5 separate regions of the Homo sapiens genome follow, and all the other regions are linked to region 1. Evidence: fine-mapped expression QTL. A gene starts in region 1. Each other region holds a variant in brackets. All regions are shown on one strand. Distances are from middle to middle.

The links. PIP is the estimated chance that this variant, and not a neighbour inherited with it, causes the effect.
Region 2: its variant is fine-mapped to the expression of TAPT1 in whole blood (TOPMed, PIP 0.99).
Region 3: its variant is fine-mapped to the expression of TAPT1 in whole blood (INTERVAL, PIP above 0.99).
Region 4: its variant is fine-mapped to the expression of TAPT1 in whole blood (INTERVAL, PIP above 0.99).
Region 5: its variant is fine-mapped to the expression of TAPT1 in whole blood (TOPMed, PIP 0.98).

What each region holds. Positions count from the first base shown.
Region 1 is chr4:16,223,833-16,228,938 of GRCh38, forward strand. TAPT1 (transmembrane anterior posterior transformation 1) reads right to left here and starts at 2,639. Exons shown (of 14, transcript NM_153365.3): 1 at 2,427-2,639. The coding sequence starts at 2,625. TAPT1-AS1 (TAPT1 antisense RNA 1) reads left to right here and starts at 2,831. Exons shown (of 3, transcript NR_027697.1): 1 at 2,831-3,345. RefSeq lists silencers at 2,192-2,571, 2,682-2,731, 2,742-2,841, 2,852-2,921, 2,982-3,181 and an enhancer at 3,692-3,751.
Region 2 is chr4:16,313,710-16,318,815 of GRCh38, forward strand. The region is part of intron 2 of LOC124900674 (a long non-coding RNA gene); the gene reads left to right. Among named protein-coding and RNA genes, the nearest start is that of TAPT1-AS1, 90 kb to the left of the region's middle. The variant A/G (reference allele first, on the strand shown) is at 2,099.
Region 3 is chr4:16,196,546-16,201,651 of GRCh38, forward strand. The region is part of intron 3 of TAPT1 (transmembrane anterior posterior transformation 1); the gene reads right to left. Among named protein-coding and RNA genes, the nearest start is that of TAPT1, 27 kb to the right of the region's middle. The variant A/AC (reference allele first, on the strand shown) is at 2,026.
Region 4 is chr4:16,184,200-16,189,305 of GRCh38, forward strand. TAPT1 (transmembrane anterior posterior transformation 1) reads right to left here. Exons shown (of 14, transcript NM_153365.3): 5 at 4,021-4,156; 6 at 2,582-2,679; 7 at 2,336-2,405. Among named protein-coding and RNA genes, the nearest start is that of TAPT1, 40 kb to the right of the region's middle. The variant C/T (reference allele first, on the strand shown) is at 3,104.
Region 5 is chr4:16,355,853-16,360,958 of GRCh38, forward strand. LOC124900674 (a long non-coding RNA gene) reads left to right here. Exons shown (of 5, transcript XR_007058064.1): 5 at 1-2,436. LOC105374505 (a long non-coding RNA gene) reads left to right here and starts at 5,013. Exons shown (of 4, transcript XR_007058069.1): 1 at 5,013-5,106. It also overlaps the pseudogene ZEB2P1. RefSeq lists an enhancer at 4,559-5,106. The variant T/C (reference allele first, on the strand shown) is at 3,096.

The DNA of each region.
Region 1 (5,106 bases):
GGATAAGTACCTAATATGTACATTCATTTAGGGAATTCTAGGCTGTTGGGACTGATCAACAAATGTCTTACCTGTAGGAGCCCTAAATTCCTTGTGAGAAATGATAAAGGGAACTTTGGAACTGACTGATGGTTCAGCCACCAAGACACTAAGATTATGACTTTCAAAAAGAAAAGCCAAAGGTTGCCTTAACTTGCAGGGGGATCTAGATCTCAAGGGCAGTGGTGCTAGACTCTCAGAGGCACACAAGAATATAAAAAAATCAACAAGTAATACCTTAAGTCCGAGCATCTAGCCGTGGAGGACTAGTTTGATTCAGGGAGAAATGCTATCCAAATGACTCCAGGTGCTGCCACTCAAAGGCCCTCTGACCCAGGCCAGCTCCTAGGGAATCGTTTTTAAAAATTCTTAAAAGGAGGGGAAGGAAGGATTACAGAGCAGGGGAAGAGGGCAGCGCTAGACTTAGCAGCCTGGGCATTGAAGAAGGACTAAAATAATTGTTTCTAGTGGGGAAACCTCTAACAAATATGGTTATCGGAGCTACAGACTGGGTGCTAGCAGTGGCAGGAGCTATGTGACTAGCAGAGCAGGGACACCAGGGGAAAAGAAGGAGGGGCTTATGTGGAGGCTCAGAGAGAACACTGGCCAGTGGCTCCAGCTGAAATACTCCTGGAATTTGGAATTCTCACCTAAATCCTGATCGCCAAGGCTAGTGTGACTTGGTAAAGCAGGAGTGGCCACTGACATCTCCTCACACAAAATCAATGGAACTGGGGAAAGAACAAGGACTACCCCAACAGCTAAACCTGGAGGCATCTCCCTGATAATGACTTCCTGCAACTATGGGTTAAAAAAAATCCAGCCTTAAACATGGTGAACCATGTTGGTGAAGAATGGATACGTGGTATAATGAAGTCCATGGAAGTCCAGGTATCCAGTCCCAGAAAAAGCCAGGGAAGAAGTGTTAAGTGATACTGCAAGCTCAAGATCTGTGCTCATCAATAGGCTTCAAACAACTTCATTTCCTCTCCACGCAAACAACAAAAAAAGGCTTTTAAAATGGTGGCTTTCCTGCAACTGAGAAATGTTTTAAAGAAAGTATAGTGAAGCCTGGCTACATCTATCTCTATTTACAACAGAGTGCTTTTAATATTCAAGTCTAAGTAAGTAAACAGACAGTTGAGAGATTTGCTATTTTGTCTTACTGAGATCCTGCCAATGAAGAAAGTAAATACTCTTGAAAGCAAATGTTTAACTGAGAACTAAACCAAATAAAGTATGGTTGAGAATTTTTAAGTGGTTAATTGAAAAAGACCAAACAAGACCGTCTGTAATTTTCCAAAAATATAGACTGCTTCAAATAGAACCTACGTCCAGTTCTGGGAATCAGCAAATCAATTAGAATCGCATCTGATCAACTTTATGCCCCTTAAGTAGTTTTAAAATTTCAGTACTCAAGTACAATCAATGATGTAATCAGCCTCACAACTTAGTTATTTGCATGAACTTCAGGAAATAACGGCTAACACAGCCCCTTTTGGACAACAGAAGTAATTTTTTAGTTGGAAGAAATTTAATGGAGTTATGGTTCAGTTGCTGTTTACAGCTTGAGAATTAAAACGTTGGGTTCACTCTATATTCAAGAAGACATCCATCTCAAAACCTTTTTTCATTTAAAACTAATCTGTAACTGCAATATGAATACAAATGCAAGTTTTAAAAATTCTTTTAAAATGAGAATAAAAACCTACAGCTTATAGAAACTGTAACATTGTAACAATACGTTTAAAACTGGTCATTGAATGTAGGATTCATAAGTACACATTTTCTCATCTAGTAATTTTTTTGGCATAAGTTTCAGTTCAGGAAAAGTTCAGATGCAACATTTTATGGAGTGTTAAATATTTCTGTACTGGGCAAAACTACTGAACTTCATGGTCACTACCACACCGTCAGCTGTCTGTGAAAAATCTACTTGCAGGGCAAGTTAACAGGTTTCTATGGCTCAAGTTTGCTTAAAATACAGAACAAAAAAAGTCACCTTGGCATGAATATAATTAAGAAATCAGCCGTGTGCTTCTCACGTTTGGGCTCCGAGACGTGGGAGATGCCCGCTAACCTAAGACCTTCCGAGGGCGATGCAAGGACCCGGACAGAACTTTCCCGGCCGCAGACCCCTTCTAGGGCACACCTGGCCTGGCGCGGCCGCGGGGGCCTCGGGGCTGCGCGCGCAACCCGCCCGAGGAACTGTCAACGGCCGCGGAGCCTCGGCAGCCTCGGCGGCTCCGCGCGCCCACAGCCTGGGGAGCCCCGGGAGGCAACGGCAGCCGCGCGGCTCGGGGGCCGGGGTTCCAAGGCGCCCCCGCCGCCCTCGGTCCCCAGTCCGCCCCTCGGAGCCCGCCACGGCCTAGCGCCGCCCGCCTCACCTGTGCGGCCCCGGCGCCTCTCCCGCCGCCGGTCGCTCTCGTAGAAGCCCAGCGTCTCTGTGAGCTGAGGCGCCGGCGGGGGCCCCTGTCCGCCGCTGCCGCCCGGCTGCTCCGCCTCGCCGCGGCCGTCCCGCTGCGGGCCGTCCACGCCGCCACCGCCGCCTTCTCCCGGAGCGGCCGCGTCGCCGACGCCCGCCATGTTCCGAGCACAACAAACTGTCCCCGCCGCCTCCCTCCAGCCTCTGCCTCCGGCCGGCCCCCTCCCCGCCTCGCCCCGCCCCTCGCCGGAGCCCGAGCCGCCGCCGCCGCCGCCGCCATCCGCGGCCCGCCGACCGGCGCGAGCCATTGGCGTCAGCGACGCGTGTGAGGCCGCTGCCGCCGCCGCCGCCGCCACGGTAGCCGCCATCTTCTTCCTGCCCTCGCCGTGGCGGGCGACGGTTTCTCGCGCCGTGGCTGGCTCGGCCGGCCGGGGCACCGCGCCGGGCTCCATGCAGCCGGGCTGCGCGGTCCCGCAGAGCGGGCGCCTCCGGGGCTCGAGTCGGGGACCCGGCAGGAGCGGGCCGGGGATGGCGGCGGCGGGCGGCGGGTCGGCCGTGGAGCCCCGGAGAGGCGGCCGCCACCACCGCTGCCCGCAGTCTGCGAGGTGTCCGGCGGTCCGCTCAGGGCCTCTTTTGCAGACTCGGTGCCCGGAGTGCGCCGGCGCCGCCCGCCAGGTCTTGGCACTGCTGGCGCGGCCGCGGCGGCGGGGGCCCGGCTCCAGATCACCGACCCCCACGAGCGCCGGCCCTGCCTGCCCGCTATTTTGGTTCCATCTCTTCTGCATATTTATGCTTGCCTGTTACATTCCCTGGCCTCTGAGTGTCCTTTGGCAGTTTCCAAAGCATTTGGGCAAGAAGGAGCTTGGGCAGCTTCACAACAGGTGGGGACGCGCAGGGGAGGGGCCGCGGCCGGACCGGCAGAGTTTCAAGGGCTGGCGCGCCGGCGGACTTTCCACACTGTCTTTCGGGACTGGGGTTAGGAGACAGCCCTTGGCCACCACTGTGTCCTTACTTTGTCGCTTTACTTGGGGCTGGACCTCCCCTTTCCAGCTCTGGCGTGTGACCCCGCAACGAGCGTGGTGTCGAGACCACCACCAGCTGGGGCGGTGGGAGCGAAGGTGCCCCAGGCTCGGGGAAGGTGGAAACCTTTTCCCCGCTCCCCAAGTGATTGTTGCGCGCTCCGGTGAGGGGACAGTGGTACCTCGATTTCCCGTGTGCCAGCTTCGGGACTCAGCTGTGCTTTTGTGTCTCTTTGATTAGCAAAAGCAAAACGAATTCCTCCCCGAACACTAAGCTTCCTGGAAACTTCCCTAGACCTAAACTTGAGAACCGCATATAAATGGGCCTTGAGGGTTCTGTCGTCAGTAGCGGGTTACGTGATTGCAAACGAGCAAGTTTAAAACGGAGTGGGCTTTGGGCTGCAGAGCCGCCTGGCATTCTGACAGCTGAGCAGGAGGCAGAGGTGAGAGTCCAAGATGGACTAAAAATGTCCCAGCAGCTGGGAGCCCAACCTCGGCCCAACCTCGTTGAAAGGAGGAACATTCGGTGCAGCCGTCGGAACCTTATTATTTATGAAAGGGGACAGCTCACAGGATTACATTTTTCTAAGCCAATCCTGTGACCATCCTCCATGAAATTCTCTATTTTGGTTGCATGTGGTCAAAACTGAGCCTCACTGAAACAATTGAAAACAAATACTCCCGACAAATCTTAAGAATCGTTTTGAAAATCAAAAGGTGGGGAAAATGTTGTGGCTTCTGAGCTTTCTTCAGCCCATATTCTATTATTCTCTGATGTTTTATGGTGTAAAATCATACCCATTCCATTATGTATTGATTGTCAAGAAGGAAGTAGGCTTTTATTGCTATTTTTATGTCAGTTTCCATTTACTGTCTCACCACATTTATTGGGTTATTGCCTTTGCCTTTGACTCAACAGGAGCTGGAAGGGTAGGAATCCCAAATTCTGTTGCCTAAGGCAGCCAGTTGTCAGAATGGACTTTCCTCATTTTCTATTATGAGGCCTGAGGAAAGACATTCAGTTCCAAAGGCTGTGCCTATCCTTTTAAATAGAAGAGAGAGGGCCCGGCACGGTGGCTCACGCCTGTAATCCCAGCAGTTTGGGAGGCCGAAGGGGGCGAATCACGAGGTCAGGAGTTCCAGACCAGCCTGGCCAACATAGTGAAACCCCGTGTCTACTAAAGATACAAATATTAGCCGGGCGTAATGGCGGGCGCCTGTATTCCCAGCTACTCGGGAGGCTGAGGCAGGAGAATGGCTTGAATCCGGGAGGCGGAGGTTGCAGTGAACCGAACCGAGATCGCGTCGCTGGACTCCAGCCCGGGCGACAGAGTGAGACTCCGTCCCAAAAAAAAAAAAAAAAAAAAAAAAAAAAAAAAAAAAAAAAAAAAGAAAAGAAGAAGAGGAAGCAGCCGTGCCAAAAAAAAAAAAAAAAAGAAGAGGAAGCAGCCGTGCCGAGGCTAGGTACTGCCTAAAGAAGCGGGGGAACAAATTGGAAATGTGGGAATGCGAATGTGGGCAAGTTGAGGAACTTGTAGCTTCTCGTCGGTTGAATCTTTTCACTGAAGCTGCTTTATTATATCTGACATGTGAAACTACACAATTTCAAACAAACCCATATTG
Region 2 (5,106 bases), 90 kb after region 1:
CTTTGAGGAGCTTAAAACATGGAGGAAGATGGGTGAGGGCCAGGAACTGTATGCCAACTAACAATGAGATATAGGGATGCAGAGGCAGGAGGTGAGGAGCAGTTAATAAGAGGCTTTGCAGAACAATCATGGAAGGGCATGGAAAGGCGTTGCAAACAAAGGGAAGAGCCTGAACAAAGACATAGAGGTGGAATCTTTGCAGTTTTGACAAGAAGACATGTTCGTTGGAAGCTTGGCAGCTGTCTTCGATGGTGTCTCTTTCTTTGCCTCCCATTTCCAGCTTTATTGCAATTTACTTATTTAGTGTGATGTCTCTTGAATTAATCCTTTTCTCTGAACCTCTTCCAAATTACTTTGGTTTAGGCCACCTTCCTCTGGCACTTGGCACACTAGTCTGGTTACTAGCTCAGGTACTGAAACCTAAACTTCAGTTCTTTGTATTTTGGTTCCCTCCTCTTTAAAATGGGGATTGTAATGCTGCCTAACATCTCAGCGTATTTGTGAGGACTAAATTAGTTAATAAGAGAAAAGAGCTTAGGATAGGGTCTGGCACATAACATGATATAAGTGTTAGCTATTATATTATTATTTTTTTGTTTTTAACACAGAGCCAAAATTACTTATAAAACTTAAATTTAAGAAGCAAAAGCACTACATATGTGTGATATTTGCTTTGGCCTCATTTCTTTCTGATTTGATAACATCCATGCAATTCAGTGGTGATAATTTGTGTGACTGCTGATGTGAAATCATTCATTCCATCAGCTTTGAGTGCCATTGGTGGCAGATGCTGGCTGTGTATCTAGAACTGTGTCTGAAAAATAAAATGAATTCAAGGTCTATCACTAACCAAAGAGGATAACCTTGGGGTTTTTCACAGTCTGTGTAGGGGATATTGCCTTTGCAAAATCGATGTCAGAAGAGACCCAGTCCATCAGCGGAACAGCTACTGGTAAGGAAGGAAGACAAAGCAGATAGTGATGGTCACACTACAGGACATCAGGGGGCCTGCAGAGAGCATTCTGAGACAGAGCAGTATAGAGGCTATGAGAGTGGACTGTGGTGTTTAGCCAGGGACTTCTCCTCTGCCACTTGCTTGCTCTGCGATCTGGGAGGGGTTAGGTAACCCCTGAGCCCTGGTTTCCTCATCTGTAAAGTAGGAAAAGATGAGAGCACCCACCTTTGATCTTAGGATTGGTGTGCAGCTTTAATGAGTTAATAACTATAAAACACTTGGAGCAGTCCTGACCCTTAAGGAGAACTTCCTAAGGAGTCAGAGACCCCAGAAAGGTGAATGATCTCATCTTGACCCCTTGATGTCTCTCCATTTTCCAGAGCTGCTCCTGTGAGGCCAGTCTGCGTCACTCTGTGATGCTGGGCCAAGACCATGCAAAGAATTAGTGTCAAGGGTTGTCAGTGGAGGCCCCCCTCTGGACATCTTCAGTGATAAGCCAATTGTGAGCTTGAGAGCTGGCTCATTCCAGCTTCAGACCATCCTAATGAGGAGAAAGAACCCCTGCTGGATGGGCTAGAAGCTTCCTCCCATTGCTTCCACCCACTGGCTATCATTTTGCCCACTGGTCATAATGGACCTTGTCCTTCTTCCTGACACTCCATCAGAGCACATGGAATTAGCCATCAAGCCACTCTGAGTCTTCCTTTTTCCAGCCTAACTGGAGATGGATAAGAGAATGTCTGGGTGTAGTAGGCTGACTTTAGATATCTAAAGTAGACACGGTCTGTTTTCTCGAAGCCATCGCATCAGAACCTGTGTGCCTCTGCAGGACTCAAGTACCAGCTCAACAAAGCGTGAAGCTGCCTGTGTTTTGGAAGAAGGGATGACTGTAAAGGCATTTTGTTCACAAGTATGCTTGCCCAAGGGCCTGCACAGTCTAATTTCCTTCAAGCCTCTCCAGAAGCTCCATTTCCTGATGATCAGTGGTAAACTCCCTGCAACAGGATAGGTGGCGTGAAATTTCAGATTTTATGCAAGTTCACGGCTAGAACCAATGCACAATTACTGCTAAGAGTTTGATTTTGTCACTGTGAAAGCCCCGCGGATTAGGCCTTTCAGAAGAAAGGGAAAAGCCGCTTCTGA[A/G]TTTTTAGCCTCTGTTGGGTACTTCACCATAGAACAGTGCTCATACTGCCAGTGCATTTACAATGTAAATGTTTTCTTTCCAAGGTCAAGGTTTTAGAGCCCAAGGCCACTATTGAGACCGCAGGGGCAGAGCCATAACAATTCTGCTGGCATCCTAAAAATAAAAAGCTTTATTTTCAAATTGATGATGTGGTTTAAAAGACAGAGTCTCAATAATTTACTTTTCTGCCACTTGCATCCTTTTTCTGTTGATTGGGCCTGGGAGAAAGAGGTTGGCTTCATATCGAGGGAGTGCCAATTTCTGAGACTTGCGTAAGACTAACCCTCTTGGATTCTGGTACTAATGTCCCAATCTTCTCCTCCCTTCTCCATCCAGGTGTGAGCTGTTAGATTCACTGAATCCTTAGGCCGAATCCTAAGCATGGTCAGGCTTCTGGCAGACACACCAGCAGAGTGTGGTGACACAAATTCTGAAAAGACACCAAAGGGGCAGCAATTGACAGAACTGAAGTGCCAAAGGCTTTAGGGAAAAGCTTCCCATGGCCGCCTCAGAGGGTCAGACAAGCATAGGAGGCAGGCTAGGGTTCTCAGTTCCTCATCATCATCCCTTTCTTCTTTCCAGGTCTCATCCTCCACGGAACAGAGAATGGTTTTTAGAGTAACAATGCATCCAAGGTATTTACTAAAATGGACACAGTATTAGCACTCTTAAAATTTGTCTTGAAGTTGCTCTTCTCCAAAGGCCCTGGAAGATTCTAGTAGGAGTCATTATTGCTTTCTCTGGAGGGGTGGATCTTTGCCTTGACCATACTGGACTCAGGCAGTATGAAGTTGGGGCCCTGGGGAATAAATCTGCGGGGGGCAGAGGAGAAAGAGGAAGATCAGAGAGTATAGCAAAGAAGAGAATGCACAGGTGAAGGGCACTGACCTATGAACAAGTTCAGTCTTGAGTATGTGTGAATGGAAAACCAACCCACAGGCAACAGCAAGTTCCTGCCACTGTCTTCTCAGTTGGCCCACGGTCAGCTACCAGTTAAGAGCAGGTGTTTGCTGTTACTGGACTGCACCAGCAGGCCCATGCAGAATTTGATGTATATAATAGCAGTCTTTCACATAGTTTTCATTTATATATAAACATATATTCATTCATACATATATATATTTATACATGTGTTAATATATGAATATATCAAAATATATAAATATTATATTCATATATACTTTTATAAATTTATATATGAATATGCTATGAATACAGAATATACTTTATACATTTATATGTATATATTTTTTTCCAAGCACCATGTTATTCATAACATCTCCCTCGAAATCCAACCTGTTTTTCCCAAGATTGAAGCAACCATTTCACAGCCATCAAATGATAGCTGTTAATCTTTTTTCCATCAGTCTTTTGGGATTTTTGAAAGACACTTTTTAAAAATGAAGTATCATTTAGAATTGTTTTTATGGTGCTTGAGAATCTTGACTGACTGAGTACTTCTCTGAAGGGAAGGGTTTAATATGCGTTTGAGTGCTTTTCTCTACTCCCTCCAACCCCAGAGCTAAATCATTGTTTTCTACTTCCTTGCTAAAGTCATGTCATAGATTTCTAATACCTATGGAAGTTTAACATTTGTCTTGTAGGGGAATATAAAAGATGGTGTCAGAATAGCTGGCTAACTGGTGTTCAGGAAGGTCACCTTTAATCATGTTGCCCAAGCAAGGTAGCCTTGATAAAATTACTACCTTTTCTGAATCGCTGTTTTTATATCTGTATAACAGAAGAGTTAAGATGGCTCGATGATGATAATATTTTTTTAATATAAATTTGAAACTCCCTCTTCCATTCTTTGATTCTTTGAATCCATTTTATTATAGGATTTGCCCTTATTGGTCTTTGCTCCTAGATTATTATTTTCCTAGTTTTTCCAATATATGCTTCATTTTTATTCTTTAAAGTTCATGTATCAAAAGTTACCTCCTTAACAGGCCTTCCTGAACCACTCTGTCTAAGTCATCCTGACCTGCAAATGCCCTGTTTCTGTGTTGTCATGTATTTATTTTTCATGTCCCACAAGAGGGCTGGGATCTTGTGTTTCTTGCTCACTGGGAGCTCATAAGCTTGAAGAGTGCCTGGTTCATCATACATGTTAAGATAAATGAATAACTTGTACTTTTTTCAAAATTAATTTCATACTTTGCTATGATAGAGTTTAATTTCTTAATTGTACCAACTTTAGAGATGTGAGAGGTAGGGAGAGGATGATGGCTTTTGTTTCTTGCCAATCTGGCATGAGACCTCCTGCTGTAGGCCATGTGGGAAGCCCTGGAATTCAGAAACCAGGGTGTGAAGTGTGGGCAGCATATCCCGCTGCCTTCTAGCTGCAGTGAGTACTCGGCAGGGGGACCCAGTGACTGTTTCTGATGGAGAAGTCATTGGAAGAGTTTGATATGGTTCCTTATGCCAAATTATCATTTTAAGTGATTCAGTGTCCAGCACATCAGTGTTTGAGGGGGAAAAAGAAGCTGAGATTACCCATGTACACATCTCATGCTAATAACTTGATGACTGGGAGCAGCGGTTTTTATCGCTTTCTTTGAGACAGTTTTGTGTTCATAGAAACTACATATACATAGCAAAGCAGATCAGTCAATCAGCAAACATTTCTTGCATACTTATTTACCATGCAACATGCTGTGGAATATTTCTTGTCATAACCTCCTTCAACTTAAAAGCATCCAGGAATGCTCTTCATGAACAGGTTTTAAAATGATTAAGTATGATCCTTATCCAGGGGTTGCTGCAAGTGTTGGATTTATCTAAACCATCTACCATTCTTAGATGATATCACAAAGTTTTCGGTGTCTACTTCTCATTTTTCAAATCAACTATGTAAGGGGTTCATTCACCTCTTAAAAATTGGCTCCTAAAATGGAATCTTTTAGTGGCAGCCTTCTAAGGTCACGTGGTCGAAATAGTTTGGCAAAAATTAGAAGCAAGGCTTGTC
Region 3 (5,106 bases), 27 kb before region 1:
TTCAGTATGTTTCTACCCCCTAATGGCTATGTCTGCCTATCCTGTTTACTTTTGCATTTAATGAATGTCAATTTGGCCAAGAGTATAGAAGGAAAAATCAGGGTTTACTCACCACAAGGAGTCCCTGTGCCACCACATTCCATTCTATAAAGGAAGTGAAAGTGCTCCTCCCTTCGGTCTGATTTACGAGAGAGAAAGAAAGAGAGAAGATTGTAATGTTGCTACGCTACTTAGAGCTCCATGGTGAGGAAACGGGACAATAAAACCTGGTGTTACGAAGACTTTCTAATAACAAATATATTGCTCTCAACAAATAAGCCACATAGATCAGCCCTGGTAAAAGGAAGTAAAAGGCATATTTGTTTCCCCAGAGAAAGTTACCAAGAGCTCTCCCTACTTGTGCTACAGTGGTGGCATCAATCACTTAGGCCAAAATCAAGGCTTAATTTTGTCTAAAAAGAGAAAAATCTATTATAACATATAGGTGAGGTTAATCTTGGGCAGAACTATTTCGAAAGAGGTAAGGCATACGAAGGAAACTCAAAAGGTTAGGAAACTCTCAAGCATCTGAAATTCATAATTCTGGGAGACAAGAGCTCTCCCATGGGATAAACTCTCAAAAGAAAATGATACTATTGCCTCTTCAACCAAGAAAAATAAAAGCCTGTGAAGCCTCATGTGAGAGTTATGCCTAAAGCCGGGCCAGGGGACAGAACATTTGCTCACACATATTTTAGTTGCTCTAATAGTAAAAAACAAAAACCAAAAAACACTCCGGCATTTATTACTTAAGCCTGTTCAACTCATGTATCACTTTCTAAAATGTTTCAGTAAAGTTTTTTCAACAATAACTCAATTCTTGGTACCAGGCTATATCATTTTTCTCTACAATCTTCTTTAACTTTTAACTTACGTGACTGAGAATTCTAAAGCACAAAACGAAGTCACAAATTTCAGGAGAATAGAGGGCTGACAAAAATGCCAGGTAAATCAAATGTACATAATTAGCTATTTTTCATTCAATTCTACAAGCAAATTTGGAAAAAGGATGTTTCGTACCTCTAACATAATATAGAGCAGTCTGCTTTTCTGAAAAACAAAAAATTCTATCATTCTTCCAAGGAATAGACACTTCATATAATAAATCAAAACTTAGTTCTGTTTTATATGTCATGAATCATTAAAAAGATTATCCTCGTTCAAGAAGTTTCTCAAATGATTTCTAAAATGACACTACTCTTATCTGGGAAAGAGGGAAGATATACATAAGTGAATCTGCTTTTAAAGAATTTAGATGCATTTTCTAATTTTTTTTTTAAGTCTACAACAAAATATTTGTGGGCAAAGATTTTTCAAGGTTGTTAATTCATCAGAAACTATTTCAGTGAAGTATTCTTGAGATCACTGAGGACAGACATTAACTTTTAGGGAGGGAGTGCATCCTTGGCAAACACCACACACAAATATGACTGCAGATAATTACCCTGCCAACATCTCATAATGAACAGTACTTAAACAACAGGGTCAAAGCCAGCAAAACACCCTGCTGGATGAGCCATCATGATGAAGGCTGGGTTTACTTAAGGCACTGTAGAACCACCCTTGTCCTCAGCCTTAGTGAAGGGACAGGGTCTTTATTTTACTTAAGTCAAAAACCATGGCAAGTTTGCAGAAGAACTAGAAATAGGTTCAAATATTAAGTTATGAAGCAGAGAACACGGGGGTCTATGTGCTTTAAAAAGCTTCTCACAAATGCTGTACAAGATGTAAATCTGCAAACAGATGAGGTGAGAACACTGATCTCAAATATAAAAAGAAGGCAATAATTTACATTATTGATGTGATACTGAACCAAACAGTTCTAGAGTCTGCAAAGAGTTACTGTTTTCACGTCAGCATTGTGATTAATTTGACAAATGGACTGTTTCCTCCCTTTTGTGAAAACAATTTCAAAGAACAAAGAGACTAGGAAGACAGTAAGTTTTTACAGAAAGAAGATTGAAATACAGGAGAGTGAAAAAAAAA[A/AC]ATTATTTAAAAAATTGCAATCAACTTCTTTGCCAGTCTATTTCACTTCTTCTTATTTCTTTGAAAAAAATAAAGTCAGACTGAAGGAAAGAGCACTTTTTGCTTGCTGAAAAGGATGGAACATGACATCACTACAGGCAAGACAAATCGAATAATCTTTAATGGAAGTAGAAAACACAGGAATAAAAGCTATCAGAAGGCAAAATCTGGCTATTTCTAAATAATCATTTGGTAAACCTAAAAAGTATTTTTATATTCCAAAATATTTGAAAGGTCTTAGACTTAATATTAACAATAGCTTTGTTTATGTAACTTTTACCTTATCAAATATTTCAAGTTTCGTGACTTTAAAAATAATGCTCAAAGAGATATTTTCTAAATTGCTCAAAGAAACAAAAATTGCAGCCTATATTACTGTAAGCACAAATTACTCAATTTTGATAAACCATACTTAAGGCACTAAGACATTAGGCAGGATTTTCATATTCTGTGTAACCTGGCCTATCCTCAAAGCATTTATAATTGCCTGAACTCCGTTTCATTTAAAATTTAAATGAAAATTTAAGTTTCATTTAAACTCCTATCATTTAAAATTGCTGAAACAGTTATATAATTTTAACTGCATTTCATGTTTTTATACATATAAGTATTTATTAGTGATAGCATGAAATTAATTTTTCAGTTAATCCAAAGCAGAAATAGTAAGAAGTGTTTGCAGGGGAAATCCTCAATGGAGTCTTAAATGTCATGTGTAACAGGCTGCCCTCTAGTGTCATTTTAGCTATAAAACTTTGAAAAAAGAAAACATCTTATTTTCAAATGATACTCAAATTAATTTAGATTCAAAGTATTTCAAACTAATGTAAGAAAGCAATCATCTTATGCACTACAAAAAATCTTAAAATATCTAAAAAAGGTTAGAGGTAGGGATCATTAACCACTAGTAAAAGTAAATACTGGCAGAGGATTTAAGATTTCCCAGTTCCCTGTAACATCTTTTAGTTTTTAGAACAAACACTTTAAGAATTTTTTTTTTTTAAAGAGACAGTCTTGCTCTGTCAACCAGGATGGAATGCAGTGGTGCAATCACAGCTTACTGCAGCCTCGAATTCCTGGGCTCAAGGAATCCTCCTACCTCAGCCTCCCAAGTAGCTGGGACTACATGTATGTGCCACCACAACTGGCTAATTTTTTATTTTTTGTAGAGACAGGGTCTCGCTATGTTGCCCAGGCTAGTCTTAACTCCTGGCCTCAAGCTACCCTCCCACCTTGGCCTCCCAAAGTTCTAAGATGACAGGTGTGTACCACCGTGCTGGTCTAGAAAAGACTCTTCTAATGCTATTTTATGTGCCCTGTACCCCCACGTAACAGGGGCTACACAGAAATGAACTTGAGTGCAACACAGTTTTAGATGCCTGTACAATATAACAAGGTGGAACTTCAAACAACTGTCCCCGAAGAGAGACCCTTGGGATCACTGGCAAATCACCACTGTTACTTAGTATACCTCATACGTGTGCTAACCAATGCCCAAGGAAGGGACCACTCCAGAAGGAATACAGTCATTAGCTTATCTATCATTTTAATGTTTTACCACATTGTGCCAACAGCCACTAAGAACATGACATGTCTTTAAAAGCCGTCCACATAAAGATGGCTAGAACATGAACTTGACGCACACTGTTGATCAAAGAATAACTAAAAAGTAATGTAGCTCATAATGTAGATGTGAAAAGCCCTACATAGTATTAGTTATTTTCTTTCTTTACTTGAGACAGGGTCTCACTCATCACCCAGGCTGGAGTGCAGTGGCATAATCATGGCTCACTGCAGCCTTGACTTCTCAGGGTCAAGTGATTTTCCAACCTCTCAGCCTCTGGTGTAGCTGGGACCACAGACATGTGCCACCATGTCTGGCTAATTTTTTAAATTTTTTGTAGAGACAAGTTCTTACTATGTTGCCCAGGCTGGTCTTGAACTCCTGGCCTCTAGCGATCCTCCTACCTTGGCCTCCCAAAGTGCTGAGATTACAGGCATGAGCCACCACATCCAGCAATATTAGTAATTTTATGTCATGTGTTTCACCTGACTTTATCTAAATTTCCATGTTTCTATTCGCTTTATCCCGTTCCAAATAAAGATGTATATTTGGTAATGTTCTATTAGATTGTATTTGGGTCTTCTGAAAATGAACTAAAATGCCATGATATCATGAAGCTCCCAGGAGTGATAAAAGAAAATAGTTTATTGTGGTTAGGTTTTGTTAGTATTAATGCACCACGCTACAAATGCCTTTAAAAAGGCTTGTTAATAATAAGGCCTTCTTAAAACTTCTCCCAAAAGAAAAAAGGATGTACTAGAAATGCCTTAAAGCAAATAACTAAATTTCTAAAACTACCTTCCCATTTGATTAACTTGTGATTAATAAAATATGTAACACTAATTCACTGTTATCCTGGAAGGCAAGTAAGTTACAGAATATAGCATATAACAATGACAGGAGCTGAATTTTTATAATTGTTTTACTCCATGTAATCTTGCAAAACAAGCATTTTAAATCCTTTTATAATGTGATCATCATAATAATTATTCCAATTTATACTGGGAGGAATTTCTATCAAAACTGATTGTCTTATTTTTAAAAAGACTGTATGTGTTACTAAATATCAAGTATACGCTCATTTACTACTTTAAAAAAGAACCTTTCATGGCTTCAGTCTTTTAAAAAAACAAACCATATAAATGTGTATATCGACCACTAATTTTTAACTCAACTGCTATGGTTAAATTATTTTATTAATTATATATTTTATACACCACGGAACAGTCACCATAGTTCAATGAAGTCTCACAAATTATTGTCCATTTTAGCATTTTAGAACTTTTCCAGCATGAAATGTATGTAGAAAAGTGATGCATGTCAGAAATGTAACCTCGACATCTATGCTAAGAACTCAATAAAAATGCTGTGAAGAGTGACTATATACAGAGTGGAGACACACCGGCATAATTGTACAAAGAAAGAAAACCGTAAAAGCCAAACTCGCTTTTAACCTCAAGACCAATAAAGCATTAAGCTTC
Region 4 (5,106 bases), 40 kb before region 1:
ACCTCTTATTCCTATCATCATAAACGAATTTTGTCTGATCATAAACTTCATATAAATGAAATAATACATCATGTACACTTTTGTGTCTGGCTTTTCTGCTCAACATAATGCTTCTGAGACCTACATAGCTGACAATATTAGGAGTTCATTCTTTTATCTTTAATTGCTAAGTAGTATTCTATGGTATGGATATACAGTTTGTTTATTTTCCTACTGATAGCTATTTGGGTTGTTTCCAGTTTTTGGCTAGTATGAACAAAGCTGCCATAATAATTCTTGCAACAAGTCCTACTGAGGAAATATATTTCCTGAATTACAGGGCAGGTGAACATTTAACTGTAAAAGAAATGGCCAAAAACAGCAGTTGTAATACTTTACACTCACGCCATCGATGCCTGAGTGCCAGTTAATCCATATCCTAACTTGTGGCACTGTCAGGCTACAAGAGCAGTCACTCTGGAGGGTGTGCAGTGCTATCTCATTATGGCTTTGTCTTTCTCCAGTGACATTTTCCCTAATAATGCCGAGCAGCTTTTCATGACCTTATTGGACATTTATAGATTTTCTTTTGTGAAATGTCTGTTCAAGCCTTTTCCCCATTTTAAAACTAGATTGTCCTTTCATTATTGATTGGTATAGTTTGTTATATATTCAGAAAACAAACAAACAAAATCTATCGTCAGATATATGCATCTCAAATCTTTTCTCTTAGTACTGTGGCTGGCCTTTTCACTTTTTAAGTTTTATGATCACATATTTTAATTTTGAAGAAGTCCAGTTTCTCTCTTTTGTTTTACATTTAGTACTTTTTGTGTGGTCTCCAAAAATGTTTGCCTAGACCAAGGTTGTGAATGTTTTCTCCTATATTTTGTTCTAGAAGTTTTATAACTTTAGCATTTATGTTTAGGGTTATGAACCACTATGAATTAATTTTCTTGGGCAGGGAAGGGGCCAAAGTTCTTTTTTTTTTAACCTTTATCCAACTGTTCCAGCATTACTTGTTGAGAAACTCTTCTCACTAAATTTTGTTTTATAAAATATCTTTTTTATTGAAATGTTATTTTTGTAAGCATGTAATATTTTTATTAAAATTTCTCAGTTTTCATTTCGAATATGGTGAATAGGGAGAGACATAATCCATATAAATAAAAGTCCTTTGGAATCATCGTAATTTTTTTTTTTTTTTGAGACAGCGTTTCACTCTAGTCACCCAGGCTGGAGTGCTCTAGTACAATCTTGGCTCACTGCAACCTCCGCCTCCCAGGTTCAAGCAATTCTCCTGCCTCAGTCTCCCCAGTAGCTAGGATTACAGGTACCCGCCACCACACCCAGCTAATTTTGGTATTTTTAGTAGAGACGGGGTTTTACCATGTTGGCCGGGCTGGTCTTGAACTCCTGACCTCAGGTGATCCACCAGCCTCGGCCTCCCAACGTGCTGGGATTACAGGCGTTAGCCACTGCGCCTGGCTGATCATCATACTTTTTAAAGTGTGTAAAAGGGTTCTCAGGACCAAAAAGTCTGACAAGCGCTGCTTTGGATGAGCCATGTGTGCTCTTATCTACGACAGGACTGCAGGCCTCCCCATAACACACCCCTCCTTCCTCAAGGACATCATCAAGCCAGGTTCCTTTAGGGGTCCTCTCTATTGTACATCTGTCTGGATTCATGCTAAAACACCACCATTTCTTCATGACTTGTGCAAATGTCACCATGGCAGAAGAGATGAATAATGTCTTCATATTCTTGTGAAAACACTTTTGACTCTGAGCATACTCCCTGGCAGAGCCCCTGGGACTGTTCTTGGGGGCTCCATGATCCACCACGCAATGTGGCTCTGGCTTTCAAAAACTATGTAAGACAATGACTCCAGGCACAAAAATTTTGTGCCTTCACACTTTTTAGGATTAGAACGAAGGCAGTAAATAATAACTAAATAATAACTAAAAAAGCTAAGGACTTAGAGACAATCTGAGATTTATAGACATAGTTCTCCTAGAAGCTATGTGACTGTGGAGAAGTCAAATTATTTTCTGTGTTTCAGTTTTCACATCTATAAAATGGAAAAATACCACCCACTTCAGAGAAATTTCTAGACTATTAAGAAGCTTCTCAAAGTAGCGTATGGTGCTACACAAATGTTTCTAATTTTTTTATCTCAAACATCTTGTGATTACAGGAACCAAAAATAAGAAAACCTAGTAAAGATGTTGATAGCATAAGAGAAGGTACAGTTTAAGCTGAAGAGTGGCCCAGAGAAAATGTGCCATTAGGATTTCAGAATGAACTGCAAAATAATACTGCACAGAACTTCAAGTAGAATCTAATTGTACATACCGCTATTTGACATTTGAAAGAGATTGTTCTTTTCAAACTTCTTGAAAACACTTCCTTTAATTTCAACAAACTGAAATAGTAAACAGAAATACCATCTTTATGATTATAACAGTTTAAAAACTGGACTTGCTACTTATAAAACTTCCGGGAGAACAACATATAGAACAAAGAATTTTATCCCACCCAGAGTATTGCAGCTGAAATGCCTGTATAACTTCAAAAATGTAAGATAAATCTCATACTTACATTATTAGACATCATGATAGTAAGCAAAGACTTGTTGTGTGAGTTAAAAGCTACATTGAGAGTTGTTGCTTGAACCATTATAAGAATTGCATGCAAAACTAATAGAAGGTCAAGGAAAAAACTTAAATTTGCTTTCATATTATTACTGATAATACTATAAAATTTTGAAAGTGAATAATAAAGATGACTTTCTTTTCTAAATTGTCTTAATAAGTATTGTATTATCTTCATAATTTCCCTATTAGCTATAGTTGATATAAGTTTGACAGGATATGTGCAATCCACATGAAACGAACAAAAGTGGAAATGTACCTCTATGCATTCATTTATTTAGACCATGAATCCTTTGCAACAGGGTTGTTTTGTTCTTTCTGTATCTCTGGCACTTGGCACAGTGCTCAGGAAATAGGCCCTCAAAAAAGTTTGTTAAGTAAATGGAATAAATTATGGTAAATACTGAAAGAAGAGACTAAGAAATACACATTCTGAATTAAAATAATTTGCATTCTAAAAAAGAAAGCA[C/T]AAAATATAATTCTGGAAGTGATTTTCTTCCCTGAGTCTTCAGGAAATGTGGAATGTAAGGCAGTAGGAAATATCTGATAATTAAGATTCTTCTTCATATGTCATTTTGAAGATATCCATAAACTGCAGAATTATATTTGTATTACATACAGAATAGTTAATTTATATCTAAGAGTGGTAACTGCTTTACTCCATTAAAACTGGAACAAGATTTTACCCTCACAGGTATCTTCCAACTTGGTTCTTTAACTTTCCAAGCATTAACCCAATTTCTTTCAAGTGTCACTGTTACAGAGATAGAAAAAAAAAAAAGTGACTCATTCTTGTGAATGAGTCCTGACTTCACATGGAACTTAAGAGCAGGAATGTGTGTATAAATATGTAGGGGTACACACAAACATGTACACTGCTTATACAGTAAAGCACTTACTCTCCAATAGAAAAGCTTAAAGCCAGGGAAGAATACACAAACACATAAAACCACCAAAACTCCTCCCAACCAATTTCACATTACACTTTTAGATAAATTCCATGCATTTTAAGCCCATAAAAAAGAATTCCTGGATTTAAAGATAACTTCAAGAAAAATTCTAACATAAGTACGAAAAATTATATAGATCTATATCAGGTATGTATAAAGATACACTGCCTTTTTATTATAAAAGTCTTCCTTATAATCAGTTACACTGCAAACAGAACTGTTTTCCAGCAGCTCAAAGAGTAATGCCTACATGAGGCTCTTAAATTAGTTAGTTATTATGACAATCAATTTCTCAACAGAACACAAATATTTCACATTAATCTTCAGGATACATACATTATCTATATATCTTTAAATCTATAAAATGGCTAACCAAATAAAATAAGGTAGACTATGCATTAACTGTCGGAAATTTCCAGTAGGTCTATAAGGATACAGACATAGAGAACAGCCATGAAAAAGTGAGGAATCACCCCAATGTGGGCTCTTTTTCTTTCTTTAGGCTCTGTTGCTGTCCAATAGAGAGCATCTAATATGTCTTGTCCAAAAGATGAAAACAGACGATCAGCTACCTAAAAAAAAAAATTATTTGTAAGATGTTTCTTAATATTCCATTTAAATATATAACTAAAATTGAGATATAGCTCAAATCCTGGAGATCTGTGTTTTAAATCCTAGTAGAAGGCAAGCTAAAGAGGAGTGAGGATCTTTGTTTACTTATTCACTCACATTTCTTTATTCTTTAACAAATAGTAACGGCTAAAATATGTATAGAATTTCAGTTAGACTAATTAGCTATGTTTGTAACAAAGAAAGTCTTAAATAGTGGCAAAAATAAAAGGGGTGGGCACATCTGGCCGGGCACGGTGGCTCATGCCTGTAATCCCAGCACTTTGGGAGGCCGAGGTGGGCGGATCACGAGGTCAGGAGATTGAGACCATCCTGGCTAACACAGTGAAACGCCGTCTCTACTAAAAATACAAAAAATTAGCCGGGCGTGGTGGCAGGCGCCTGTAGTCCCAGCTACTCGGGAGGCTGAGGCAGGAGAATGACGTGAACCCGAGAGGTGGAGCTTGCAGTGAGCCGAGATTGCGCCACTACACTCCAGCCTGGGTGACAGCGCGACTCTGACTCAACCAAAAAAAGAAAAAAAGGGGGTGGGCACATCAAAATCATGGTTCCTCTGGTTTTAGCACTTTAAATTCAAACTCAGGATTCAAATTTAGGACAAATATATCATTTGACCTACTCATATCTAATATTTGTAAATAATGGTAACTATTTTTTTGAGGTTTATTATATGGAATAAAATATGCAGATTTACTTCCTAACCACATTTTCAGGTATCAATCTCCTTGAATACAGTATAACAGGTAAAAATTGACACATAAAAGAGAGAAAAGGAGGGCATGATATTCAGGATTCAGTCTGAATGCCACATCCTAACAGAGGCCTTTTCCAGACCATCCAATCTCTTGTGGCTCCTATGGTCTCTACTGCCTTAGTCTGTTCTTTTTCATCA
Region 5 (5,106 bases), 130 kb after region 1:
TGGCAACTGTCTCACTGTGTTCTCATATGGTCTTACCCCTGTGCACATGCAGAAAGAGAACGAGAGAGAGAGAGCACAAGCGAGCTCTGGTGCCTCCTCCTCTTCTGAAAAGTATACCAACTCTATTGATTTAAGGCCTTTCTCTAATAACCTAATTTAACATTAATTACCTCCCTAAAGGTCCTATCTCAAAATATAGAACCTATGAATTTTGAGGGCATACAGTTAAATCCATAACATTAGCATTCGTTATCTCGTACTCAAGTGAGTCAGTTTATCGATATGTCTACATGACAAGGCTGACAGTGCCGTCAGAACTGGAGCACAGACTTACGTTGTTTTTTGTATCTCCAACACTTGGCATGAAGCCTAAAACATAGGAAGCACTAGATAAAAGCCAATTATGTGAGTAAAAGAAATTACTAAATGAATAAATGATGGCAACTAAACCCAGCATGACAATTCAGTATGATATGGTTTAAACTTTTATTCAACAATATTATCTGGGGCCCATTGTGTCCCATGCTTTCTAGAACCTTTGAAATATCAGTAAACAAAACCATTAAAACTCTCTGTCATTTAGGTAAAATTCCTTAGGAGCTGCTGAAACAGGTATCTTTGTTCAAGTAATTTTTTCCAGGAAATGGTCGTAGAAGAGGGGAATGAAGGAAGCAGAATAGGGAGGGAATAAAAGCTAAGTAAGAATGGGGCCTCAACTGGAGGCTAGCCTTAGTTTGTTCCCATGGGGAAGCTCTGAAGCACAAATAACATAGCAGAGTTAGTCTTACCTTGAGTCAAGGGGTGCTTAGTCTTTTGTACACCCATGTCAGTCAGTCATTAGCTGAGGTCTTTCCTCCAGAGGATATAGGATATAGTTCCACAGGACGATGGTTGTTGTATTTGCCCATTTATAGGACGTAGAACTATCAAGATATTCTGAAAGATCACCTTCATGCCAGCAATTTTTTGGCCCCATGATTAAGGAGCAGTTCTATATCCTCATGAGGACAGTGGTCTATTATCCCCACTGTTATATAATGTCTGCTTTCTGTGACTGCTCGTCTATTTGCATTAAGATGCCCAATGACCACGTAGCACTCTCAACTGCATCCCTTGGTGGAAACACCTCCTTCTCTGGAGACTAGGACTTCTGTACCTATAGTGTATAAAGGTACAGACAAAGGACACACAAATTTCCTAAGCAGCTCATGCTACTCCCATCCCTATTTCTCTCACCATATGTTCTATCTATTGGGTACACATCACCATATAATGACCGTTGGTATACAGTATATACCCCATCATAAATTATAGCACCCCATCTTCAGAAGGATGTCATCTTCAATCTGACCCCTCAGCTGTACATTCCAAAGGTTGTTTCATCACTCTATCAGGCCAATAGCTTCTGGATGGTTTGTGTATGGCAGGACTGATGGATTCCACAGTTATATGCTCACTACCATTTTTAGGATGTCCAGACATTCACAGTCCTTTTGGATTTTAGCATGACAGAGAATGGAAAAATTAACAAAGTTCTGCAGCAACTCTGAATTTGTACCATTATTTGTGCCTCGAGAATGTAAACTGCTTCTGATCTTCCTCTCATGTAGATATGGAAAAGAACACATTCATTAGTTCGATAGCCACATATGATATATCTCAAGCTGTGTTAATCTCCTTTAGTAAAGACACCATATCTGGCACAGCAGCTACAAATGAGACTACACTTGGCTAAGTTTGTGATAGTCCATTAACATCTATCATAATGCATCCAGTTTTTGCCCTACTGAATAAATGGGATATGACAGAGTCTATTACTCCTGCATTACGTGAGTATTTGAAGGTGGCATTAATATCTGTCATATACTCCAGGATGGGATCTTGGTTTTGATTTACTATCTTGGAGCAGGGAGCAGTTTCAGGGACTTCCCCTTGGCCTTTCCTACTGCCATAGCTCTTACTCTGCATGCCAGTGTGGGAGTTCTGTCAACTCCTGAGTATGAAATTGTTGTTTATGCCTTTAGGAATCAGAGAAATAGCAATGGATGAGAATGAATCCATTGTGAGATGGACCTTGGCCAGGACTTCATTTATTATTTGACCCCCCATAGGCACTATCAGGGATAATATTGGTACTTTGGGTTCCTGGGTACTAGTGCCTACTCAATTCTATGTCCTATAGCCTTTGAAGGATTTGGGTATTCCCCTTTCTGCAGTGTACAATTATTTGAGTACATAGCCATAATTCTTTTCTTTTCGTTGTTGCTGTTATTTGCTTGTTGGGAAGAACTGGGAAAGCACTACTGTGCTCACTGGCTGTTGTGTTGTAGGATTTTTTTGTTTTCTGTGGGAATATGATCTTTCTTTAGTCGACGTGCTCTGGATCTGAGAACTCCTCAGGGCTGTAAACTGGGCAATCAAGACTTTCTAACATTTGAGACCAGCCTGGGCAACATAGCAAGACCTTGTCTCTACTAAAAATTAAAAAAAGAAATTAGGTGTTGTGTTGCTAGCCTGCAGTCCCAGCTACTTGGGAGGCTCAGACAAGAGGATCCCTTGAGCCTAGGAGTTCAAGGCTGCAGTGAGCTGTGATTAGGCCACTGCACTCCAGGTGGGAAACAGAGCAAAATCTTGTCTCAAAAAAAAAGTCTTTTTACAGAGGCAGCAGACCTTAAGTCTCTTGATCATCCATTCTCTGTGAACCCTTTTGTTTTTTGAGACAGTGTCTTGTTCTGTCGCCCAGGCTGGAGTACAATAGGGTGATCATGGCTCTCACTTCAGCCTCAAACTCCTGGGCTCAAGATCCTCCTGCTTCAGCCTCCTAGGTAGCTGGGACTACAGGCACATACCACTGCACCTGACTAATTTTTGTATTTTTTACAGAGACAGGGTTTTCACCATGTTGCCCAGGCTGGTCTGGAACTCCTGGACTCATGTGATCTGCCCGTCTCAGCCTCCCAAAGTGTTAGGATTACAGGCATGAGCCACCACACCCGACTGTCATTCTCTGAACTTTTTGGATCATGTATTTTAAGCAGTACACTTTCTGGTTGCCCATCTATTTTGCACCTAAGAATACTATGTTCTGTGAGCCA[T/C]TGCCATGATCCCTATGGGACAGATGCCTCTGGCTGCCATTCCAGTCTTGCTGTCCATTACAGTAACTGGCTTTACTTTATTCTTTTTCTGACTGTTAAGGGCTGCCTCCTGGCCTCTTCTTTTCCAGAGTCTTATCCTCATTGCTGTTAGGGAGCCCACTTGTGTAACAACAACTTCTCCTATCATCACTCCTGACCTACAGAGGATAATTACTGCTCACTTTTGCACTGCCTGTGACTCTCTCACCAGAGCCCTCTATCATTTTTGTTAATAAAATGTCCTCTGAGCCATCTTTTTTTTTGTTTTTAATTTGGCTACATTTTTATTCGAGCATGGTCATTTTCAAAAGAAATTACAAATTAAAAATTCAATAATACTTTTACAAAGACAATTCAGAAAGATTTTTGCATGGTATCATACATTGTATTTAACAGTCCCTCTTTTTAGCTAAAAAACAAGATGAAGAAAGTGGAATTTTCAATAAAAAATACAGTGTTTTCACAAGATCGTATCAAAAGTTCCCAAATTTGGAATTTCCAGTAATTGGAAAAAACAAAAATAAAATAATAAAATCGAAAAATTCCATCTCACAATTAATGTTCCAAAACACAATAAATGCTCTTCTCTTTACATAAAATTTGCCCAAATGACCAATGTCATGTTCCTTTTTTACTAAAATATATCTATATATTGAAGAACTATAATACCGTACACTATAGTATGAAATAAATAAAATTAGTAAATATAAAATTAGGAAATATAAAAAATAAAAAAACATAAATAAAATGTTATTTGACCTAAAATTAAATGAATGCAAAAAAAAAATTGTTGTTGCAAAAACAGTTTGGTGTAATACTGACAAAATTAATGAACAAAAAAGTACATAAAATAATTGCACGAACATATGTAAACTAAGGAACTGCTGCCTATTCTTCTAATACTGACATGGTTGCTTCAGAGAACAGGGTGAGCTTAACACTGAAGCTGGTGCAAAGGTAACCCATGTTATCTTCTTAATACTGTACAAAGATGGCACTTGCAGAAACACAGAGTAAAAGGTTTGCATAAAAGGCTTTTAAAACCACCTTACAAAGGCTTTATTTCTCATCTTACTTTTTCTTTTACATCCAGGTCACTTTAAGACTTCGGTATCTTAAATTCACACGTGCAACACTTCAAGTTTCTTCATAGAAAAAAAAAAATTGAGGCCTAAAATTGTGTGGTTACTTAAGCTGGAAAAAAAAAGGGAAATTGATGAATAGCAAAAGGAAAGTACAGAGGAATCGTAATACTGATGCATTGTAGTGCGAGCAGATTAAATTAAAAAGGAATAACAATAATAATAATGATGTATGGTAGTGCTGGCACCTTTTAAAAATGTATTGATGTAAATTAGACATAGTTTTGTAAAGTTTGTAGTGATACGTAAGTAGAGTGCAATTTTTACAATTTTCTAGTTGTGCTTAAAGTATAAATGCTATTAAACACAGGAATTAGTCTCTGAACCACACAGTTTTTAGGCCTTAACACTGTACAAAATTTTTGCATAATGCAGTTTTTAACAATACCCAGCTCCAACTCTGTCTACATCTGTCTTGGCTGAACCACCCCTTCTGTCCCTCTCCACAGCTTTCTGGAAGCGTCAGGCATGTGCATGAACCGCTTAACACAGCAATGTTTTCAAGCAGGTAACAATACTACTGGAAAAAAAAAAAGGAAGCTTCAAATGCAGTAGTTTAGTCCATGCCACGTTCCATATTGTCTTCCTCGTGGTCTGATTTGGTTTCCATTTTCCCATCCTCCGAACTATCGTCCATGGAGTGATCTCCAGTTTCTTCTTTATCTCGTATCGTTTCGGGATCCGTATCCATACTTTTATTTTCACTTTCTTCCTCTTCCGCCTCGAACTCCTCGTCGCCATCTTGTCTGCCCAGCTTCCCGTAGCCATCCTCGCCTGCCTTCTCGCGCTGTTTCTAGCTCTCGCCATCCCTCGGCGTACTCTTCCTCTCC